5 separate regions of the Homo sapiens genome follow, and all the other regions are reported to be linked to region 1. The links are microRNA targets in miRTarBase. Many come from high-throughput screens and were not tested one by one. Region 1 holds a microRNA gene; each other region holds the end of a gene's coding sequence. Distances are from middle to middle.

Evidence for each region. The annotated mature microRNA hsa-miR-7151-3p reads CUACAGGCUGGAAUGGGCUCA and lies in region 1 at 1,532-1,552, shown strand. An mRNA with a match to its seed (bases 2 to 7 or 8) in the 3' UTR can be bound and repressed. Matches are read on the target gene's strand: a 7mer-m8 pairs with bases 2 to 8, a 7mer-A1 pairs with bases 2 to 7 and ends in A, and an 8mer does both.
Region 2: miRTarBase lists LETMD1 as a target of hsa-miR-7151-3p. Seed matches in the 3' UTR shown: 7mer-A1 at 1,604-1,610.
Region 3: the mRNA of PARD3 is a reported target of hsa-miR-7151-3p. The part of its 3' UTR that is shown has no 7-base or 8-base seed match.
Region 4: miRTarBase lists FOXRED2 as a target of hsa-miR-7151-3p. Seed matches in the 3' UTR shown: 7mer-A1 at 2,218-2,224 and 8mer at 1,327-1,334.
Region 5: miRTarBase lists CD36 as a target of hsa-miR-7151-3p. The part of its 3' UTR that is shown has no 7-base or 8-base seed match.

What each region holds. Positions count from the first base shown.
Region 1 is chr10:67,401,903-67,404,902 of GRCh38, reverse strand. It overlaps MIR7151 (microRNA 7151), which reads left to right and starts at 1,493; the gene lies at 1,493-1,552. All of the region lies in intron 5 of CTNNA3 (catenin alpha 3), which reads left to right.
Region 2 is chr12:51,058,638-51,062,177 of GRCh38, forward strand. It overlaps LETMD1 (LETM1 domain containing 1), which reads left to right. Exons shown (of 9, transcript NM_015416.5): 9 at 724-1,787. The coding sequence ends at 794. CSRNP2 (cysteine and serine rich nuclear protein 2) reads right to left here. Exons shown (of 5, transcript NM_030809.3): 5 at 2,568-3,540. Among named protein-coding and RNA genes, the nearest start is that of LETMD1, 12 kb to the left of the region's middle.
Region 3 is chr10:34,108,616-34,113,741 of GRCh38, forward strand. It overlaps PARD3 (par-3 family cell polarity regulator), which reads right to left. Exons shown (of 25, transcript NM_001184785.2): 25 at 946-2,947. The coding sequence ends at 2,554. Among named protein-coding and RNA genes, the nearest start is that of LINC02629, 210 kb to the left of the region's middle.
Region 4 is chr22:36,486,315-36,491,440 of GRCh38, forward strand. It overlaps FOXRED2 (FAD dependent oxidoreductase domain containing 2), which reads right to left. Exons shown (of 9, transcript NM_001102371.2): 9 at 876-3,953. The coding sequence ends at 3,694. Among named protein-coding and RNA genes, the nearest start is that of TXN2, 7.2 kb to the left of the region's middle.
Region 5 is chr7:80,672,427-80,677,552 of GRCh38, forward strand. It overlaps CD36 (CD36 molecule (CD36 blood group)), which reads left to right. Exons shown (of 15, transcript NM_001001548.3): 12 at 344-417; 13 at 929-983; 14 at 1,557-1,721; 15 at 3,958-5,126. The coding sequence ends at 1,721. Among named protein-coding and RNA genes, the nearest start is that of CD36, 36 kb to the left of the region's middle.

The sequences.
Region 1 (3,000 bases):
TGTCCCCCAATCTCTTCTGGCTTGCATGGTTTCTGCTGAGAGGTCCACTGTTAGTCCAATGGGCTTCCCTTTGTAGGTGGCCTCGCCTTTCTTTCCAGTGGCCTTTGACATTTTTTATTTCATTTTGACCTTGGAGGATCTGATGATTACATGTTTTGGGGACGATCTTCTTGTGGAGTAAGTATCTTACTGGGGTTCTCTGCATTTTCTGAATTTGAATGTTGGCTTCTGTAGGTAGGTCAGGGAAGTTCTCCTGGATGATATCCTGAATTATGTTATCCAAAATGGTCCCATTCTCCTCATCTTTTTCAGGTACCCCAATCAGTCATAGATTCAGTCTCTTTACATAATCCCATATTTCTTGGAGGTTTTGTTTATTCCTTTTCATTGTTTTTCTCTATTTTTGTCTGCCTGTGTTATTTCAGAATGACATTCTTCAAGCTCTGAGATTCTTTCTTCTGCTTGGCCTATTCTGCTATTAATACTTGTGATTGCATCGTGAAGTTCTTGTTGTGTTTTTTTCAGCTCTATCAGGTTGGTTATATTCCTCTCTATACTGGCTATTTTGGCTGTCAGCTCCTGCATTGTTTTATCATGATTCTTAGCTTCCTTGCATTGAGTTGCAAAGTGCTCCTTTAGCTCAGTGAAGTTCATTTTTTAGATCCACATTTGGAATCCTATTTCTATCATCTCAGCCATCTCAGCCTCAGTCCAGTTCTAAATCCCTGCTGGAGAGGTGTTGTGGTCATTTAGAGGAAAGGGAGCACACTGGATTTTTGAGTTTTCTGTGTTTTTGTGCTGATTCTTTCTCATCTTTGTTGGCTTATCTACCTTTGATCTTTGAGGTTGTTGACCTTTGGATGGGTTTTTGTTGTTGTTGTTCTTGTTGTTTTGCTCGTTTTTTCTTTGAACAGTCTGACCACTTTTCTGTAGGGCTGCTATGATTTGCTGGGCGGCTGCTTCAGACCCTAGTCACCTCAGTTTTTTCAGTACCTGTAGGTATTACCGGTGAAGGCTGCAAAACAGCAAAGATGGCAGCCTGCCCCTTCCTCTCAGAGCTCTGTCCCAGAGAAGTACTGACCTGTTGCCAGCCTGAATGCACCCATAGGATGTGGCTGGAAACCCTGTTTTGGAGGTCTCACCTAGTCAGGAGGAATGGGATCAGGGACCTCCTTAAAGAAGCAGCCTTCCTGCGTTTTTGTAGAGCAGCTGTGCTGTGTTTGGCTTCCCTTCACCCCCATATAGTTTTGCACTTTCCAAGGCCCACAGGTTGGACTGGGTGAGATGCCCAAACAGCACAGGTGGCAGCCCACCTGGCCCCCTGGGCACTCCATCACAGGGAGAAATTAGAACTTTGTCAGCCATAGAACATGGGTGAGGGTGGTTGGAAGCACTGGTTGGGAGGACCTGCCCAGCAAGGAGGAATGGATTGGGGTTCTATTTAAAGAAGCAGTCTGGCCACACCTTGACAAAACAGCCATGCGTTGCTGGGGATCCATCTCTGCCTGTATTGGCTTGGATTCTGCAAAGCCTACAGGCTGGAATGGGCTCAAAGCAACATTGGCAGCTCATCCCTCCCCACTGGGCACTCCAGCCAAGGGAGAGATCAGAGTTCTTTCCTAGAATATGGGCAGGGGTGGCTGGAGGTCCCTATTGGGAAGTCCTGCCCAGTGGGGTGGAATGGATTGGGGTCCCACTTAAAGAAGTAGTCTGGCCACATTTTCATAGAGCAGCTGTGCTGTGCTGTGCTGGGGGTCCCTTACTTGTCCAGACTGTTTGGACTCTCCAAAGCCCACAGACTTGAACAGCTGAGTTGTCCAAATAACAAAGGTGACAGCCCACCCCTTTCCCTGGCAGCTCCATTCCATCTCAGGCAGGCACTACCCTGTTGCTGGTGGCTGGCTGAAGTTCCAAGCCAGTGGGTCTTATTTTGTGAGGTGCCTTGGAAATGGGGCCCACAGATGGACGCTGTTCAGCTCCCTGGATTCGGCCCCCTTCCTAGGGGTATGTATGGACCTCCCGCCTTGACTGAGTTGTAGTCACCTTTGCCAGGGATCCTGTGGCTGGGGTATGTAAATCTCCTGGGTCTCTGTGCATACCTGAGTGGCTGCCCTGCTGAGACTCCACACAGCTCTGTGTATCTGACCCAAGGTCCTGGTGGAGTGGGTTTATGAGGGGATCTCCTGATCTGAGGGTTGCAAAGATCCATGGGAGAAATGTGGTTTCCCAGGGTGGCACATTCACTTACCACTTCCTTGGCTGGGGTGGGGGTTCCCTTGGCTTTGCGTCACTTCCAGGTGGGCTATCATCCTGCCCTACTTTTCTCTGTTTTCTGTGGATTGGTTATTTCCCTGATCAGTCCCAGTGCGAAAACCTGGATATTTCAGTTGAAGGTGCTGTATTTACTCACTGCTTTTCTTCCTCTTTATGAGTGCCATGCACCATAGCTACTTCTAATTGGAGGTCTCGGCCCACTCTCTGCTCTTCATCTTTCTCAATTCTCTTTTCTGTATTTTTGTCTGACTGTGTTAATTGAAAGAATTGCTCTTTGAGCTCTCAGATTCTTTCCTCAGCTTGGTCTATTCTGCTGTTAATACTTCCAATTATATTATGTAATTTTTGTAGTGAATTTTTCAGCTCAAGAAATTAAGTTTTTGTCTCTCTTTAAGTGAGAATTTCACCTTTCAGCCCTTGAATCATTTTACTGGATTGCTTGGCTTCCTTGGATTGAGTTTCAACTTTCTTCTTGATCTCAATGAGCTTCTTTGCCATCCATATTTTGAATTCTATGTCTGTCATTTCAGATAATTCAGACTGGTTAGGAAACATTTCTGGGGAGCTAGTGGGCTCATTTGGAGGTAAGGGGGCAGTGTGGCTTTTTGAATTGCCAGAGTTCTTATGCTGATTCTTTCTCATCTGGGAGGGATGGTATTCTTTTAATTGTGGTGTAAATTGAGTGTACTTTGTTGGCTTTGTTTCTGAAAGTTTTTAGAGAACTAA
Region 2 (3,540 bases), not on the chromosome of region 1:
TCTCGAACTCCCGACCTCAGGTGATCCGCTGGCCTCGGCCTCCCAAAGTTTTGGGATCACTGGCGTGAGCCACCATGTCCAGCCTATCCTGTTCTTTATAGGTATTTATTATAGCAGTATCCCTAGCCTCTACCCACTAGATGCCAGTAGCACCCCTTCACCCACAGTTGTCTCAACCAAAAATGTCTCTAGACATTGCCAAATGTCCTAGGGGTGGGGAGGAGAGAGGCAGGATTGTCCCCGTTGAGAAGTACTGGTCTAAAGGCATTCAAACTCAGAAAAAAAACAGTCTGCTGACCAAACACAAAGCATCTGAGGGTATGTATTAGGCTTGTTTGCCCCCTGTTTAGGCTAGGTCTTGATGTTTTGTGGGCCTTTGGATGTTAGGGTAGGCCTACTAATCTTGAAGCTGAGAAATGTCCCTAGAGCACCAACTTCTACCAGAAGAATCCCAACGCGACTGGTGTTTAGTACCATTACCATCTCTGAATTTTCTACTGCAATCACATGAGAAATAGAGGATGAGTTGATACGAATATATAGTAGAAGGAAAGGAAGGCATGCATACAGGGGCTGAAACAAAGAAGGGGAACTTTGAGAAAAACAGCTTCTTCATTCCACCCCTCCCTGCACTTGGCTTCCTGCCTCCAGGCTTAAGCCATATATAACAAGGCAGTTATAAGGCAGTGTTCCCAAGCCAAACCACTAACACTGTGTTTTCAGAAGCTGAGCTGTCTCTCTTGCTGCACAACGTGGTCCTGCTCTCCACCAACTACCTTGGGACAAGGCGCTGAATGAACCATGGAGCGGATGGCATTGTCCTGCAGTCGTATAGTATAGCAGTGCAGGAACAAACAGCACTTGCCAGCAAAGTCTGTGTGTACTGTTAAGTGTGTGGGAGGCAGAGAGAGGAGCAGGGGCCATGGGCTTCACAGCATGGCACACATGTGGGAACTGCAGACATTCCTCTCACAGCTAGAACTGAAACAAACCCTCTTGCTAGGGGTGGTCCGTGTGAGGTGTCATCCTGTCCCCCTCATAATTACTAATAGCTGGAACTGGCAGCAGCCTCTACTGGGCTTTTACTGTGATGTGTTCAGTTCATGTCCTAGGAAGTCAGCTTTTGCCCCAGGTGGGAATCCTTATTTGGCTTAGGACTGATCCACTTCCATGTTACTTACATCTGTGGGTTTTTGTTGTTGCTGTTAGAAAATTTGTGGCTGGTGAAAACAGCACTCCTTTGGCTGGAGCACATGTGTCCGTGCATGTACTTGGGTGTTTCCCTCCATCCTTTCTGATATGACCAAAAATCAAGTTGTTTTGTTTTTTGTCACCTTCACTGGCATGGGCTAACCACTTCTTTTTCAAACCCTCTGAACACCTTTTTCTGATGGGTAACTTGCAGGAATATTCTATTGGAAAAGATAACAGGAAGTACAAGTGCTTCTTGACCCCTTCCTCAATGTTTCTAGCCTTCACTCTCCATTGTCTTTTCTGGGCTGTATTACAGCCCTCTGTGGATCTTCAACTCTGCTGCCTCCACTGTGATGCAGCAGTCCAACTGTAACTGACAGTGGCTGCCTTCTCTGGGCCATGGATCACACCTGTAAGGTACTAATTACTGCCCAGCCTGGGGAGATCAGGAGAGGTCTGCATAGTTAGTAAGTTGGGTTTAGCTTTTGTGTGTGCATCAGTGACTTAGAGTTCTGTAATAACTTATTGTAAATGCATGAAGCACTGTTTTTAAACCCAAGTAAAGACTGCTTGAAACCTGTTGATGGAAATGACTTATGCATACTCTAATCATTTTGCTGTCTCCTTTTACAAGACTGACATAATCTAACAAATGGGGATTTAATTGGTTGGCATAGAACCTTCTGATGGGATGGAAGTTTTGCAGAAACTGATTTGAAGTTGATCTCCTTGCTGGACACTTTAAGGTGATAACAAGGAAAAGAGAATTTCATAAAGTTAATGGAATGAGGCCGGGCGCGGCGGCTCACGCCTGTAATCCCAGCACTTTGGGAGGCTGAGGCGAGCGGATCACAAGGTCAGGAGATCAAGACCATCCTGGCTAACACGGTGAAACCCCGTCTCAACTAAAATAGCAAAAAATTAGCCAGGCGTGGTGGTGGGCGCCTGTAGTCCCAGCTACTCAGGAGGCTGAGGCAGGAGAATGGCGTGAACCCGGGAGGCGGAGCTTGCAGTGAGCCGAGATTACGACACTGCACTCCAGTCTGGGCGACAGAATGAGATTCTGTCTCAAAAAAAAAAAAAAAAAAAAAGTTAATGGAATGAGAAAATGGGAGCCCAGAGTAGGGACAGGGCTAAGCTCCAACAGAGCAGGAGCAAGGCCTGCTTCAGCTGAACAGGTACACAAGGGCATATGAACCAAGTCCAGCTCTTGGTACTCCAAAGAGAATATTCTATTTTTCCATCACAAAATGTTTCTATTGTTAACATTAATTCCTAACTGACCTAATTAGTTTTATAACGAAGCTAGAGAAGCATCCTTTTTCTAACAAGTAACTGAACTGTGGCCTGCCGAGACAAAGAGTAACACATCATTCTTTTGAATATTTCTTTAATATTACATTTAAATATTCTCTTTAAATACAGCATTATCACAATGTAAAGAACCTAAAGGGGAAAAAATTATTTTCAGAGAACCAGACAAGCTTTGGATTCACATTGAAAATACTACCTGTGTACAGTATGTGAGAAAGGAAATTGGAAAATAATAAGGGTTGTGGTAATAAGAGTCATTTATCTAGGCCTAGACTGGGACTGAAGCTATCTGCTTCTATGATCAGAGGCCTAGCTTTCCTAGCAACCATGAGCTAGAATTCTGTCCAACTCAGGTAGCACCAGAAGTGAGATGGACTAGGTTGTAGAGAAGGCCTTTCGCTTGACAAGACAGTTAATGCTAAATGTTAATATTTAGCACTTAAAAGTTTGGGATCAGTGTGAGTCACAACTGTAGCGTTAATGAAGGGGATGGACTTAAATTAAGAAACTACAGGTTTTCAGAAACATATCTTGTGGGTTGGCAATGAGCTTAATAATTACAGATTCATATTCCTGGTTTGATCCCAAAAGCTAATGTGTTCCTCATCGTGCAGCTGGAATCTACTTCCTAGATTAAGCCGGAGCCTTCCTGCAGAGACAGTGGGCAAACCTCACCCTCCCCTTCCGACACAAACTTTGAAAAAGATTCTTTTCTCCATAAAGCCAAATTCCCAATTAAGCTTCAGTCCTGTGTTTGAGGGTACCAGTCTAAGGTAGGGGAGTCTAGTTCAGTTCTGGGTAGCTTCGAGAGCTCAGGTACTTAAAAGACTCTCAACTGTGTTTTGTGAGGCTAGGGGATGGGGAGAGATAAGGATCTGTGTACTTAAGTTCCCCTCCAAACTAAAACCAAGCAAAAACTGGAACAAATAGGAAAGGCAGAATGAACTAAAAAATGTTATGTGTATTAAATACAAATCTTTTCAGGCTCAGAGTTTAGAGACTTCAGGGGTGAAATGCTGCTGCGACATACGT
Region 3 (5,126 bases), 33 Mb from region 1:
CTTGAAAGAACCAAGGAGGTGGTATTGCCTCGGCTTGCCATGCACCCCTCATTCCTAATCTCGAGGTGATAGAATTTGGATGTAGTGACAGGATGAGCGTTGCTATGACAACCCACTGATGCTAGGTGCTCCATAAGAGGGCATTTTTGACAGGTCCTCGCAAAGTCTGCCATTTGTGTGGGGACCAAATCTCCTATATTTGTGCACTAGACATACCTAGGGACATAGCACCCTTTATGCCTTCAAAATGCCGCATGCATATTTGTGGGCGTCCCTCTTAAAGAAATAGCAAAGCCTTACTTTGTAATTTGGGAAATAAGAACCAGGTTTGTACTGGAAGTGGACTCGAATCTGGACCTTTCTCTGGGCTCACAGGACTCAAGGCCAGGACTCAATCAAAACATCTGGCTTGCTAGGATGATTCCAAGGGTCCAAAGGGCAGTCATGGGACTATCATGTCGCTTTCTGCATAATTTTTCATTCATTTAGTTCGAGCTGTACTGGCTCCTTCAATTCAGAACTCCTCAGGCTTCTTCAGGCAGCCTGGGCCTTGCAGTGGACTCATGAAGGTTCTTGTCTCTCCCCTTCCCCTCTCTCCTCAGGTGCTCAAATACGCAATCAACCACCAGTTCCTGTGTTTGCAAACTTCCCACTTTGAGACTTCCAACTGTAAGACTGTATATTGTCTTAATGGACTAAGAGTGAGAATGATGTCATAATGGGGACCATCTTTTCCAAGGGACAGGTGAGTCCCCCCTCTCCATCCTCATCCAAGAGTGGGCCCCAGGGTTCTCCTGCCCCCTTTCCTGCAAACTTTCCTCAGATGTGAGGAAACTTCCAACTTTCTCTAAATATAAAAAAAAAAAAAAAATCACATCTGTTAATAGACCTTTTAAAAAAGCCCAGCTAGGCAAGGCTGCCCAGGAACACCAGAGACACCAAAAGAACAGGAAGAAATATGCCTTTTATTAGGAGTTGCATATGTACAGAGAAAGCTGTTTCTCACAGCTCAGGGGAGGCTGTGAGAAAGAGCCACTGTCATCCAAGGTCACTGCGCGTACACTGGTAACACCACTTAGACACCGCCGCACGTGATTAAGAAACAGAACCATGACACAGAAATGCAGAAGAGACACGGGTACGTGTGTGGACACATCATTTCTAAAAACAAGTCAACACAAAAATACAATGTGCCAATAAAAAAAAAATAGACATATCCATACATGTCTTTTTTTCTGTTTTTAAAGTAAATACATGGTATGCTGAGCTTTCACCTCCAGCTTTTTCCACATCGGGATTCACAGGCACTTTAGCACCCCAGCCATGGTTTACAATACAGGATGTTCAGAACAATGAAGGAAGATGGGAGCCACCGAGATCCCCGAGACCCACACACACACTCTAATACTGACGCGAGAGTGAGCTTCCTGCCACCACCGCTGTGGGACCCGAAAATGTTCTCTGTGTGATGTGTAACGGCTTTTCCTTTGTCTTTTATGTTTCATGGCAGAACTACTTAGGAGCGCGGCATCGCCAGTCAGACATGCAGTGTGTGGATGCATTAGACAAGCATCAATTGCCTCTGACTTGAAAAACCGTAGAGAGCAGATCAAAATGACTGTCTGGTTTATCTCTGTCCCATTCTGTGCCCTTCCTGACAAGCTGTCAGAACAAAAACTAATTAAAATAATTACTAGGATGTACTGGGCCATGAGCTCTTCCTAGGAGAATTTCTTTCTTAGCTCTCCCCTCATGATAGACACAGGGCCAATGGCAGGCCCAGCTTCCCCCGGCAGGAGCCACTCCTGTCTCCCACGTTCCCCACACAGAGCTGTGGTGACTCAACCCACGTGTCAGGAACAGGACCGAACAAGCGTATGTATAAACGCAGACCAGGATCATCACTTTATTGGTAATGTTGAGTCATAAGGCAGTTACAAAAGGACCCCCATGGTGACCAAACAATGTTGGACTATGGCTTAGCTTCTGTAATAGGATGACCGACTCTCCCGTCACAAAGAGCTGAGAAAGGAAAGAGAAAACCACAGTGATGACAAAGTACGACAAATGGCTGTGCTGTGAAGTACCAGAAAGCCCCAATTTTTGGTGTATGTCGCCCACTTTTCCTCCACCAGAGACTAAGATGTCATCCCATAGCTAAGAGAACTTAGAGGGAGAAACAGGGCCGCACGTCATCCTCCACTTCAGGTGAATTTGTCACTGCAAGTGGTGCAGGGATGTTACAACCAAGCCGCGGACAACTCATGAGTAGGGCCGAGATTCCTGGTACTGTGGAGAGGCGCAGAGCATATGAACACCTCAAACAGATGATTGTCACAGGGTGGGAAATCCTTCCATGAAACAGACACTTGAGACATAGTGGCAAAGACATTAAGGCCTTCCATTTCTTTGCCTACACCGCTTAAAGGCACTGATACCAACAACAGAAATACTCCATAGTACCATCGAGGTTTTAAAAAAACTCCCAAAATACAAGTCTTCATAGGAAAATGTCTTTTATTGCGCGACATGAAGCATCCGTTATTTGCGTGCTCAGGAATAGAAGGGCCTCCCTTTCTCAGGAGTCTGAAGTCTGTTCAGCCTCGCAACCTGAGAAGGGGAGGGGGGCACATCTTGCCGGAAGGGCCCCTTGGGAGGGGCGTAACTGGGGTCCTGGACTTTCTTATACGAGTCATAGTTGCTGGGCCCCTCGGAAGGAGGCTGCTTCTTCATCTGCTGCTCCTTCCGCCTCTGTTCCTGGCGAAGGAGCTCCTGAGTTTCCAGCATGACCCTGGCGTTGAAGCCATGTCCTCCCAGGTAGCCGTTCCTGGAGCCTTGGTAGCTGGAGTACCTGGGGTTCTCTTTGGCACTCTGGAAGCCTTCCCCAGGGGAGTAGTTCTGCTCCCAAGAGTCCTGGGAGACCGAGCTGGCATTTTTCCTGCTTTGCCTAGAAAGCAAAACCCAAAGGTTAGTGTGAGGGTAGGAAGAAGGAGGGAGAGGGAGGAAAGGGGGCAGGATGGGATGGAATATGCATTTTCACTTTTCAACAAATATTCCTGTTCTCTCATCACATGCCAGACACTGCGATAGGGGCTGGAGAATTCAAAAATGACTGTCCTCAGCAAGCGCATAGTCTTAGACAACTAAACTAACAACGAGTAAACAGGAGAGAGAACTAGACTGTGCAGCTATTTAGAAACAGGGTCATCCTCCTGTGTCTGAGAAGGTTGTGTCTGTTCTGCTTAGGGTACCAATATCTCCTGCAATTTAGACACACTGGCAAAGTATAGAAGTATTAGAGGTTTGGCAGCTTCCATGGTAGGAATAATTGCTCGCTTTAGAACATTACAATTCAATTCTAAACAAGCACAACAAATATTTTACACAGCTGCCACCATAATGCCAGAAGCGCTAGCTAATATGAAGTACATGTAATGGATTACAGTATGAGTTCGGTTATGAAAGATTTAAGTCTAGACTCCTTTATGATAAAAAATGCAACAGGCAGTCCCTTAAAGCTCTGGCTTTCAAGTTGTGTATGTCAGCAACTTACACTCTCCGGGATACCTGCTCATCCAGATTGGACGGAGAGTCCGGAAGTCTGTAAAGTAAGCACTATTTTCTTATACATTTACCTTCACCAAAGGCCAGGGTGACCTACTTAACTTGCTTTCTGTCACCCCAGGATAGGCAAGTAAATCAGAGTCACATGGAAATTTCAAATTCTTCCCACTTCTGCAACAGAGTTGGGCATGATTTCCAGGAAACATTATTGTTTTGAAACATCTTTAATTTACTATCAAGTCTCTAGATGGTTTTATGAATTTACAATAAGATTGGCTATGATGAAATAAAACAATTCTGTGCCAGAAAGGAAGACATGCCCTAATTTTTTTGCCTTGAAAATGGAAGAGGGGGAGAGACAATTGAGTAATAAAACAAAGTATATTGCTCCATTTATCAATAAGAAAATCATTTGGCGACAGTATGTATTGCTCAACCCTCTCCATCAACACACACAACACAGCTGAATGTTCACAAAGATTTTCACGGAAGGAAAAGAAGGTCTGGGAAGCCACTGCATCTCCCGCAGGAATGATGCAATTTGCATTTTTGAACATTCACAATTGCATCAATATGGTTTGGAGTGAAATGCACCCATTTTCCATATGGCCTAAAATGTAGTTGGGAACATTTTCAGTAAAGAAAATGACCATAATGTCCAGCATCACCTCTGGCTATGACGATGACTGGATGAGCATTCCATAGCATGTCTGTCTCTTTTAACGGAAGACTGCACCATTTGTACAGTCAGCCCAGGCAAGAATCCTTAGATGTGATGGAATAGTTTATTTGCCTAAAGCACTGATTATCTTCACTTAAGTCATAAATTAATCTACCCAGAGACAAGACTGTTGGAAAATGCCGGCATGAAACCAGGGATTTGACATTAATCATGAAACTTTAATTAAAACAAGGAACTTGTGACTGATATTACAGCAACAAAAATGGGATTCTTTTATGAGTTATCAGTTTGAAGATAATCAGAAATAGGCTGCAGACATTTCACCTCTTTTTCATCTCTGGCCTACTAAGATCCACCAACCCCCTTCCTCCCCAGCTTCATGGAGCCCCAGGCTTCGCTCTACGGCAGCTGTGCACCCTAAGTGGATTCTGCATCATCCCCGGAAGACACAGTCTTTCTACATTTAAACAGGGAGAATTCACTAAAGGTTTGTTAGGGATGGAAATTACAACAATGTGGGAGAACCAATTTTTTGTAGCTAAAATTTTCTTCAAATTAATCAGTATAGAGAGAAGGAAGCAGACTGCCCTGAGGTCTGAAGTAAGATATGTGGGTAAAATGCACATAAGACAGAAACACACACACACACACACACACACACATAGACACACACACACATGCGCACACACACAATTCCTTGGTAAGGAAGTTAGCAGTATCTATATGCTCTTGATTAAGGAGAGAATGAGAAATGGGCCAATTGTAGAGACCAAGGGAAGGAAACAGACAATAAGAGTTTCCTACACTAGGAAACTAAGCATCCAGCTGGGCAAGGTGGGAGTGGCTTAGGCTTAGAGCAACGTAGATTCAAATCCTGAGC
Region 4 (5,126 bases), not on the chromosome of region 1:
GGTGGGCTGCGTTGTTATTGTCCCACTGGGGGTCTTGGGTGGGAGTTTTTTGATCTGCTGTAGGAACGTTTTGGCCAGGAGGGTGTTCGTGTTCCTAGGCTCCCATAGCAGCTCTATGGATCATGTCTCTTTCTTCCCCCGAGAAGAGGGGAAAGGGAAATTCTGAATATCTTTTTTACATTGCTCTATCTCACGTTGAAGTCCTTTAAGGGAAAGGTACTTAGGTCGGTAGTGAGTGGGCTCTTGGGACGATTCTCAAGAGGCAGGGTTGTAAGAAAGGGGACATCAGAGATAGGAGAAGGGTCTGGGACAGCAGCTGCTTTTGTTTTTGGTCCTTTCATTATCCTTCTAACATTTTAACATTAGGCCTGGGGGAATATTACTGTTGCTAGCTTTCTCCTTTTTATCTCTTACCTTACTTGGGGCATTTCCCATCTTGGGTCCTGGTTAAGCTCAATCTCCCCTGTTGGAGATGTCTCGCCTATCCTTTAGCCCCACCTGCTGGAGGCTCCTTGCATTCATGCACACTTTCAACCCCCAGAATATCCTGACCACCAAGGAAATACTTTGTCACCCCTGCGATGTTTCTTAGCTTGGTCTCTGCACACTTACTTGGTCGCTGTGGTACATGAGGATCCTTTCCCCCAGGTCGCCAGCCCGTTTCTTTCTGCCTTGCTGAGAGTATAGGTTTATTCGTCACACTGGTTGGTCTCGATTCCTTACCCCTGTGGCCACCGCAACAAGGCAGTGGGACGTGCCTCCTCATGGGAGAGGTCTAGACCCTCCTCAGAGGAGGATGGGAATCCCAAATGAGACCCCAAATTTGTTAGAAATAAATTTTCAGTGCCACAAAAGAAATAGCACTCAAACATACATTTTCTCAGCAAGGCAATTTTACTTCTATACAAGAGTGCGTCTCATGGATGGTGCAATGGCGAGAGCACACCGGAACAAGGGAGGGGAATGGGTTCTTATCCCTGATGCAGGTACCCCCTACTGCTGTGTTGTTCCCCTATGGGCTAGGGTTGGACCGCACAATCTAAGCTAATTCTGACTGGCTATTTTAAAGAGAGCAGGGGTATAAGCCAGAGTGGTGGGGTGAGAAGTTTAGACAGGAAAGATGGTTACGGACCAGGTGACTAAAGGTGACTCAGGTCAGAGCAGGTGACAGAGGCTAGGAGGGGATTGTTTACTGAAACTAGGGGCAAGGAGACATAAAGAATGAGGAAATTAAAAGTTAAAATGAAGAACAAAGAACAGGTGAGCTGAACATACTGATACATTGGTTCTTTGGAGAGGATCTCAGAACTCAATGTACTTAACAAATTACAGGCTAAAACCTTTGAAGAAGAATTTATGATATCCTACATTATCATGGGGTAAACAATTCGTCCCTGACAGAATAAGGCTACTGGAGTTCTCTTCTTGTAACTCTGGGAAGGACTAGAGGGAACTGTGTCTGCAGTGGGGCCAGGTAGTTAAAAAGTCTGGACTGGGCCGAGCGTGGTGGCTCATGCCTGTAATCCCAACACTTTAGGAGGCCAAGACAGGTGGATCACCTGAGGTCAGGAGTTCGAGACCAGCCTGGCCAATGTGGTGAAACCCTGTCTCTACTAAAAATACAAAAATTAGCTGGGCGTGGTGGCAGGCGCTTGTAATCCCAGCTACTTGGGAGGTTGAGGGAAGAGAATTGTTTAGACCCGGGAGGCAGAAGTTGCAGTGAGCCGACATCGTGCCATTGCACTCCAGCCTGGGTGACAAGAGCGAAATCCATTGCAAAAAAAAAAAAAAAGAAAAAGAAAAAGTCTGGACCAAGCCAAGAGGGGAAGAGGACGTCCCCATGAAAGAGCTTTGGATCCAGAAAGCCCGGGTTCTTGGAATTCTTTTTCTCTTTTCACTTTTGTTGTAGCATACTTTGTTCTTTTTTATTTTTTATTTTTTTGAGATGGGGTGTGGGGGCTTTACTGTGGGTCTTGCTTTGTCACCTAGGCTGGAGTACAGTGGCTCGGTCTCTGCTCACTGCAACCTCCACCTCCCAGGTTCAAGCAATTCTCCTGCCTCAGCTTCCCAAGTAGCTGGGATGACAGGCATGCTCCACCATGCCCAGCTAATTTTTTTTACCGTTAGTAGAGACAAGGTTTTGCTATGTTGGCCAGGCTGGTCTCGAATTCCTGAGCTCAGGTGATCGGCCCACTTTGGCCTCCCAAAGTGCTGGGATTACAGGTGTAAGCAACTGTACCCAGCGCATGTTTTATTTTAATTTAATTTAATTAACTTATTTTTTGAGATGGAGTTTCCCTCTTGTTACCTAGGCTGGAGTGCAATGGCGCAATCTCGGCTCACTGCAACCTCTGCCTCCCGGGTTTAAGTGATTCTCCTGCCTCAGCCTCTCCAGTAGCTGGGATTATAGACATGTGCTACCACGCCTGGCTAGTTTTGTATTTTTAGTAGAGATAGGGTTTCTCCATGTTGGTCAGGCTGGTCTCAAACTCCTGACCTCAGGTGATCCACCTGCCTGGGCCTCCCAGAGTGCTGGGATTGTCCTTGGAATTCTGAGTGGATACATGAAGAGTTAGTAAGAACCAGTGAAAAAGCAATCACTTATGATCCTGGGCTTTGAAAAATCACTGTGATTATCTTATGCACTTACAAATGAGACTAAGACGCCTGATGGGAAAGTGCAGATTGCTGGTGAGGAAGGGCAATGAAGAAGAGACTAGGAACCAAATTCATCATCATTATCACACAAAGGCATTTGGAAATGTCACCTTACACATGGTGAGCACATATGGGTGCCAGCCCGAGACAGCAGGATAAGTTTCACAAAACTTGACCAGGCAGGTTAGAAGCAAGGCATGGTTCAGGATGGCAGAGGGCAGGGAGACAGAAGGGAGTAGGATGGGAGAGAAGAGCCAGCTGGAAGATGAGTCAGGGGGTGCAACTGGGGAGAGCAGCTCTGAATCCTGCTTCTCAGTGAGAAAGTTGCTAAGATGGCTTTGCAGGGAGCTGTCCTATCGCTGCTCGAGATCAGCCTGCTGGGCCTATGATGATAAGCAGGGCTGACCCTCTTGGGCTCTGTAGCTAAGCCCAAACCCTGCTGAAAATGGGGCGGGGAGGTTGAGGCAGTGTGTGGCAAGTGACACAGACGGGGACTCCCAGCTGGGGGTCCCTGGAATTACTTGACATCCCACAGCTGGTGTCTTCAGCAGTCATCTGGGGCAACAATCCCACCTGCCCATTGTGGTTGTTGAGGATATCAGAGCTTTTGTTTTAAAGCGCTTGCCACAAACTCTTAAGATGCGGATGGGTTTCCCCTGTGAAGCACTCCACAGGCGGGATGCAGGCCCATCTGAGGAGGGGCTTGGAAGGAAGAGGAGCACTTGAGACGGGGCAGAACTGGGCTGGCCTGGGGCTCAGCGACAGCTCCATTGCAGACAAACTGGGCTGGGGAAGGCAGCTCCCACCTGGCAGAGGATGCCCTTCTGCCCCCTGACAGGAGGGAGGAGACCACCGCATCCCCGACTTTCAGCCCTCACGTGCCATCTGGTGGCTTTGCTGCAGACACTGCCATGATCTGAGTGGTCTTTGGCAATCACGCATTGGCGGGAGTGTGAGGTTGCGGGGAAAGAGGGACTGACCATGGGCCTAGGTGGGGAGGCCTGGCCACTGTGCCCACAGCTTAGGAAGGGACAGTCAGAGCTCCTCTTTGTTGCTATCGACGGACTGAGCCAGAGGCCCTGGAGCCAGGGGGGAACCTAGTGGCTCTTGGTCGCCAAGCTGCTGGCTGCTGTCCTCCAGGCGCCTGCCTGTGGGGGCATAGTCCCGCAGGAGCCTGCTCTCCACTCTGTGCTGCCAAAGGCTCTCGGTACTCACGAGTCCCTGCATCCTCAGGTACCCCTGCTGGCAAAAGGGTGGCAACTTCTGGCGCGTGAGGGCGAACAGGAAGCAGGACTCTACACAAAAGCAAAATGAGGAGAATGAGCCAGGCTGGGACATGTGGGGAGGGGTGCAGAAAGGGGAGCTGCCAATGCCAGGTGTGGGGGCTTCACTGCAGGCCTTGCCTGGTATCTTCCATCCCTTGAAACTGGGAGCTGACCTTTCTGGGCATCTCACGTCCAACCTGAGTAGGTCATGAATCATGACCCTCCACGAGGCTCCAGGGCAGGGGGCTGCCTTGACACTCTGGAAGAACAAGGCTCCAAAATAAAAGCAAACCACAGCAATGCCTCAGCTCCCAGACATCAGGGCTGAGCACCGGGCTCTGCAGGCAACCACACTGGGGGCGGGGCTCCGACCTTCATGAGCAGACCCTCGGCCTGGTGCGGCTGGGAACTCAGTGGTCAGTTCCACTGTGAGCTCAGATCTGCCTGCAAAGACGCAGTCCCTCAACAACATTTGAGTTGCAAATACCATGTGCAAAGTTCTGATCTAAACAGTGTGGGGGATAAAGAAAAACGGGTATATCCTCATCTGTCCCACAACAGAAAGCTGGTGCATGAATCAAATTTGGTCAATCATAAGATAGCTGTGGATACTTATCATGTAGAAATATGAAGAAACGGCCGGGCGTGGTGGCTCACGCCTTAATCCGACAACTCTGGGAGGCCGAGGCCGGTGGATCGCCTGAGGTTAGGACTTCGAGACCAGCCTGGCCAACATAATGAGAAAGAAACCCCGTCTCTAGTAAAAATACAAAAATTAGCCAGGCGTAGTGACAAACACCTGTAATCCCAGCTACTCGGGAGGCTGAGGCAGGAGAATCACTCGAATCCAGGAGGCGGACGTTGCAGTGAGCCAAGATCGTGCCACTGCACTCCAGCCTGGGTGACAGAGACTCTGTCTCGAAAAAAAAAAGAAAGAAAAAGAAATATGAAGAAACAACCAAAAGAAGCCATGCAAAGAGAGAAGCTACTGAAAGGAACAACCGCTAGGTCTGGGAGTTCCTCGTGGGAATGAGAATGAAGGTAGGGAAAGCGGGTGACATAGTTTGGGTCTGTGTCCCCGCCCAAATCTCATGTTGAAATGCAATCTCTAATGCTGGAGGTGGGGCTGCTGGGAGGTGACTGCATCACAGGAGTGGTTTCTTTTTCTTTTTTTTTCTTGAGGCAGAGTCTCCCTCTGTTGCC
Region 5 (5,126 bases), not on the chromosome of region 1:
GTTTAAACAATGACACATGGATTCTAACTGAATATATATTTGACCAGGAATTATCTGAGATCTTATATTTTGTTGCTGATTTTTGATTTTTTAAAAACCATTTCAAGTAACTCACAAATCTAACTAACTAAAACCTTGACATTCGATTGGGCAAATAAATTGTGTGTATCTATATGGATGCATGTGTATATAACTATAACTATATATGCAGTTTTAAAAGTTTCAATTAGTCCTGTTTAACCTTAAGTTACTACCTTCTCTTCTGCTGTAAGAAAAATAAGTTTTGAATAGTATAAAATAATGTTTTTAAAAGTTGGTAATTATTTAGTTGTTCTCTTTTTAGATAACTGGATTCACTTTACAATTTGCAAAACGGCTGCAGGTCAACCTATTGGTCAAGCCATCAGAAAAAATTCAGTGAGTCTCTTGAAAATGGTTATTTTGATATGATCTGTAGTATCGTAGTATCTTCTTGTAAGAACATGAGTAAATCTATGTAAGTAAGTGGAAATAACATCTGATATCAACTTATCTTTAGCTTAATGTCACCAATCATTATTAAATGCTTATGACTAATTTCACAGATTTTGGAATGGTTTTATGGTTTTATTTGAGCATTTGATAGCATCTCTTATTTTGTTAGCTGCCCAAATATTTCTATGACAATAATTAATTTTTGGAATTCATATTTCAGTTCCCCGAGAATTTATTGAAAGGAAAAATCCACACTTGTGAAAAAAAATCAATGTGATTAGAAGACATATAAGAGCAAAGGAAGTCAAAAACAACTATATTAAAATTTAAATGAGTCATTACAGGAACAAAATCAAATTAGCAACAGCAACTAATTTATGAACATTTATTTTAAAGTTTGTTATATATAAATATTAGTTTATATGTTCATAATTATTTTCAACGTATATTACAGAGTATTAAAGAATCTGAAGAGGAACTATATTGTGCCTATTCTTTGGCTTAATGAGGTTTGTATTTGCAGCTGTTAGTCATTAAAAACAACCTTCTTTGTATATAAACAAGCTCTTGATGTTTCAAAAGAATGTATAGTATTTAAAGCTATATGTATTTCCATTACCCATATGGATGAGTATACATTTATTTAACCTATTTGAGATGATCCAATTGAACAAAAACATTTCCTATCATTTAAGATTTTCTTCAAAAATGCATCTATTAAACACATTTTCTTGTTGTAACATTTGTCTTCTATTGCCTGACAAGGTATTTTTACTATAAATCCATGCATTGATAGCTATAAAAATAGGAAAAACATTGAATAAGTCTTTGGAGCAAATGAAACTGTTGACCCTTTGATAGTTCTGAAGAGCAAATGAATCCTAGTACATTGAAGAGTACCGTACTCTATCTGGCACTTAATTGCCTTTCTTGACTTGCAAAAGGAATTCCATTAACTTGCCTTATAGATACTGATGACTAACACCAATAGAGGTGTTAGAAAAAAGGGTGATAGGCAATTGAAGGGTTTATTTTGTTTTACTAACGTACCCAAATAATGTTGATTATTAACTTGATTACAGACTGGGACCATTGGTGATGAGAAGGCAAACATGTTCAGAAGTCAAGTAACTGGAAAAATAAACCTCCTTGGCCTGATAGAAATGATCTTACTCAGTGTTGGTGTGGTGATGTTTGTTGCTTTTATGATTTCATATTGTGCATGCAGATCGAAAACAATAAAATAAGTAAGTATGTACCAAAAAATATTGCTTCAATAATATTAGCTTATATATTACTTGTTTTCACTTTATCAAAGAGAAGTTACATATTAGGCCATATATATTTCTAGACATGTCTAGCCACTGATCATTTTTAAATATAGGTAAATAAACCTATAAATATTATCACGCAGATCACTAAAGTATATCTTTAATTCTGGGAGAAATGAGATAAAAGATGTACTTGTGACCATTGTAACAATAGCACAAATAAAGCACTTGTGCCAAAGTTGTCCAAAATTGACTGGTTCATTTCTCAATTATATAGCTAGTTATATATTATCTGATACTTAAAAATAATTGACTAGGAAATGGTTTCATAAGACCAGGATTGCTGCATGTAGACATGCTGGCCGTGCATTTTCCAAATCCAGAAAAGTCCTGAACAAAAATTTGAATATAATAGTATCAGGAAATAGGGGAAAATAGTGTTCAACATAGTAGAACCAAGTACTCAGAGTGGTGTACAAGAGTTTAGGCCTCTATGCTTTAGATATTAGTGTCCATGCACTCTTAAAGATGAATGAATGCCTGACCTTTCCTAAAGGAAAACCTTTTTTTAGTTATCACAGGTAACATTGGTGTTGCCTGTGGGGGAGAATTTTTTACTTTCTCCCTATTTTTCTTCAGCCCACCTCAAGGCAATGTAAATAAAAGCAGTATGTGTGTTATAATAACTTATTTAGTTGTTTACTGTGTGCCAGTACCATGCTAAAGAAAGATTCTTTATCTCACATGATCCCTAATACAATTTCATGATTTTCCAATAGCCTGGATTCATCAGCATCCATTCTATCTTCTAGAGATGTTCCATGAAATCATACATTTTAATTGTTTGTGACCAAAGCATAAATCAGTGAAAGTGGAATTTGGGGACCAATAATTTCCTTTTGTGAGATGGAGAGCTTGTGTTTGAAAAGGCAACCTAATTTTTGGTTCTAATCACTTCTACCACTATTTAGTCACCAAAAAGACAATAATTCTGCATCCAAACTATTTGGACAGAATGGCTTCAAAATGCTAGCCTAAAATGTTCACATTATAAAAAGTTAAATATTACCTTCAATACCTGTCAGTAGCCTACTGACAAATTATGACTAAACAAAGGTATTTGTATGACTATGTAATAGATCATCCGCTGAAAAGTAAAACAAAATAACAAAAAAACTTGTCCTAATGGGAAAGCATGCTTAATAAAAGGAAATGCAGAAGTTATAAACATGTTTTGTAAGTAAGTATTCAGAATTAAAATTATGTGATACATTTTTATGATTGCTTAATGATCCTTGGATGTCAGATTCCTTGGGTCTATTTATAGCTAAATTATAATGAAAAATTCAAGGCTTGCTGGAGCAACTTTGTCAACAAATATATTAGTTTTGCTTATATATTTGATTTTTATGTGGAAAAATTACTACCCTTTTTTACAAGCAGAGAATAAACTGTTGATTACTTGATTTACTAGATTTAGAAGAATCACAAAAGATATGTAGATTTTCTTAAGCAAAATTCAGCTCTTAATATCATAAAAATTATATCTTTGGGCAGATTTGTAAACAATAGGAACAAGTAAGAAGACAGGTATGTAAGAAGTAGCAAAGTGTAAGACGGTGGAGCTTTAATGTGTGGTTTTACTCAGGGGGTCACAAGAAAATAACCCAATGGTCCTTTTGAAAGTAGTACATACACCTTTAAATGGAACTTGGTCTGAAGGGTGTGGAAATGCTGGTCCAGGGCAGATGCACTTCAGCTACCGTTCCTTGCCTGGTGTGTGCTTGTCTTGAAGCACCCTTCTTATGTGCCTTTCTGGAATGGGAATGTGTTTTGCCCTATTGGTGAAGTCCGTTAGAGAACTTCTCTCTGCAGCTAGAGAAACTGAACTGATTAATAAAAAGTATGATATCTAAGATATACTGCCACTCTACAGGTAGTAAATGATTCTTCACATTTGTGCGCCAGCTACATCATGACCCTTGGTAATACCGACCAACAGGATGAAAATTGGATATGCTTTACTTTTACAAAGCACACCTTATCTTTTAGTTGAAGAAATGGTGGCACTATTTCTTTTTTTGCACTAAGCAACTGCACATTTCAAAAGGATTATTGAGATGTTATGAAAATCTCTACCTTGCACAAAAAAAAACCCAGCAGCTTTTAAAATTCATCATTTCCACAACTGAATTGATTTCCGTTTCTACAGACCTGGCTCAAGCACAAACCAATTTGTGTTGTTCTGATTCAATAATTGGTTTCTGGGTGGCCAATTCAGAAGAAGAGTGTACATGCTCAACAAATCCTAGGCCCTGCATTCCTGTCATCCTCATCCGGGGGAAACACCATCATCCCAGTAGCTGCCCTATTCAACTGCAACAGTCTCCAGGACCATCAGTATACTGCATTTCATGTGCACCAAATATTTTGAAAGACATTTATAAATAATTGGCTTATGACTCATATTTCTCTATGAATACCTTCATACAGCAGGTATAACTCTTTTCTTTATGGGCTTAAATATTTTGTCACTGATCCTGCAAATGGACATCATTTTAGCACACTAGCGGTTTATATTTTAAGGACCTTCATTCTCTGTTCTGCACCTCTTCTGGAAATTGAGTAAATTTTGCTTTTTTTTTTTTACTCAGTTGCAACTTACGCTTGGCATCTTCAGAATGCTTTTCTAGCATTAAGAGATGTAAATGATAAAGGAATTATTGTATGAAATATTACAAAGCGTAGACTATGCATTGTTATTCATTATAATATTTTTTGCTGTCATAATCGCCTCATAAAGACAGGTTTCAACCATTAAAATATGTTCTTCCTTAAATTCCTGTGCTTTTTCTAGTTCCTCTTGTGTCATAAAATGTTTATCCTAATTTTCTCTCTGAAGTATATTTTATCTGAATCCACATTTCTTTATAAATCCATAGTCCTTGCTGAAATATGCTTTCTAAATTTCTACCACTTTGTTCTAGGCTAATTTTTTAAGCTAATTGGATGAAGAACAAAAAGACATTTGGTTTCATCCTTTACAGCAGTAGGACAATTGCAAAGGTTTTTCCTTTTTCATAAGGAGACACATTAATAGGTAACTCTGTTTCTTGAGCAGGGGTTCACTTATTCTGAGAGCATTAGTTCTCCTAAAAAGCTCCAGCATAGAAAGGGAAGATAAACCAAATTCTAGCTTGTGTTTTACCCACAGAAGGATACAGGACAAAGGAATAGTAACTGGCCTGTTTGGATACTAAAATCGAAAATAACTTTTAGCCTCCTCCTTATGATAGCCGCCAGAGTAAATGTTGAGCATTACTACAGAAAAGCCACAAACCAAGAATCTACCTGTTTGGAAAGATCTTTTGCATCTCTGAA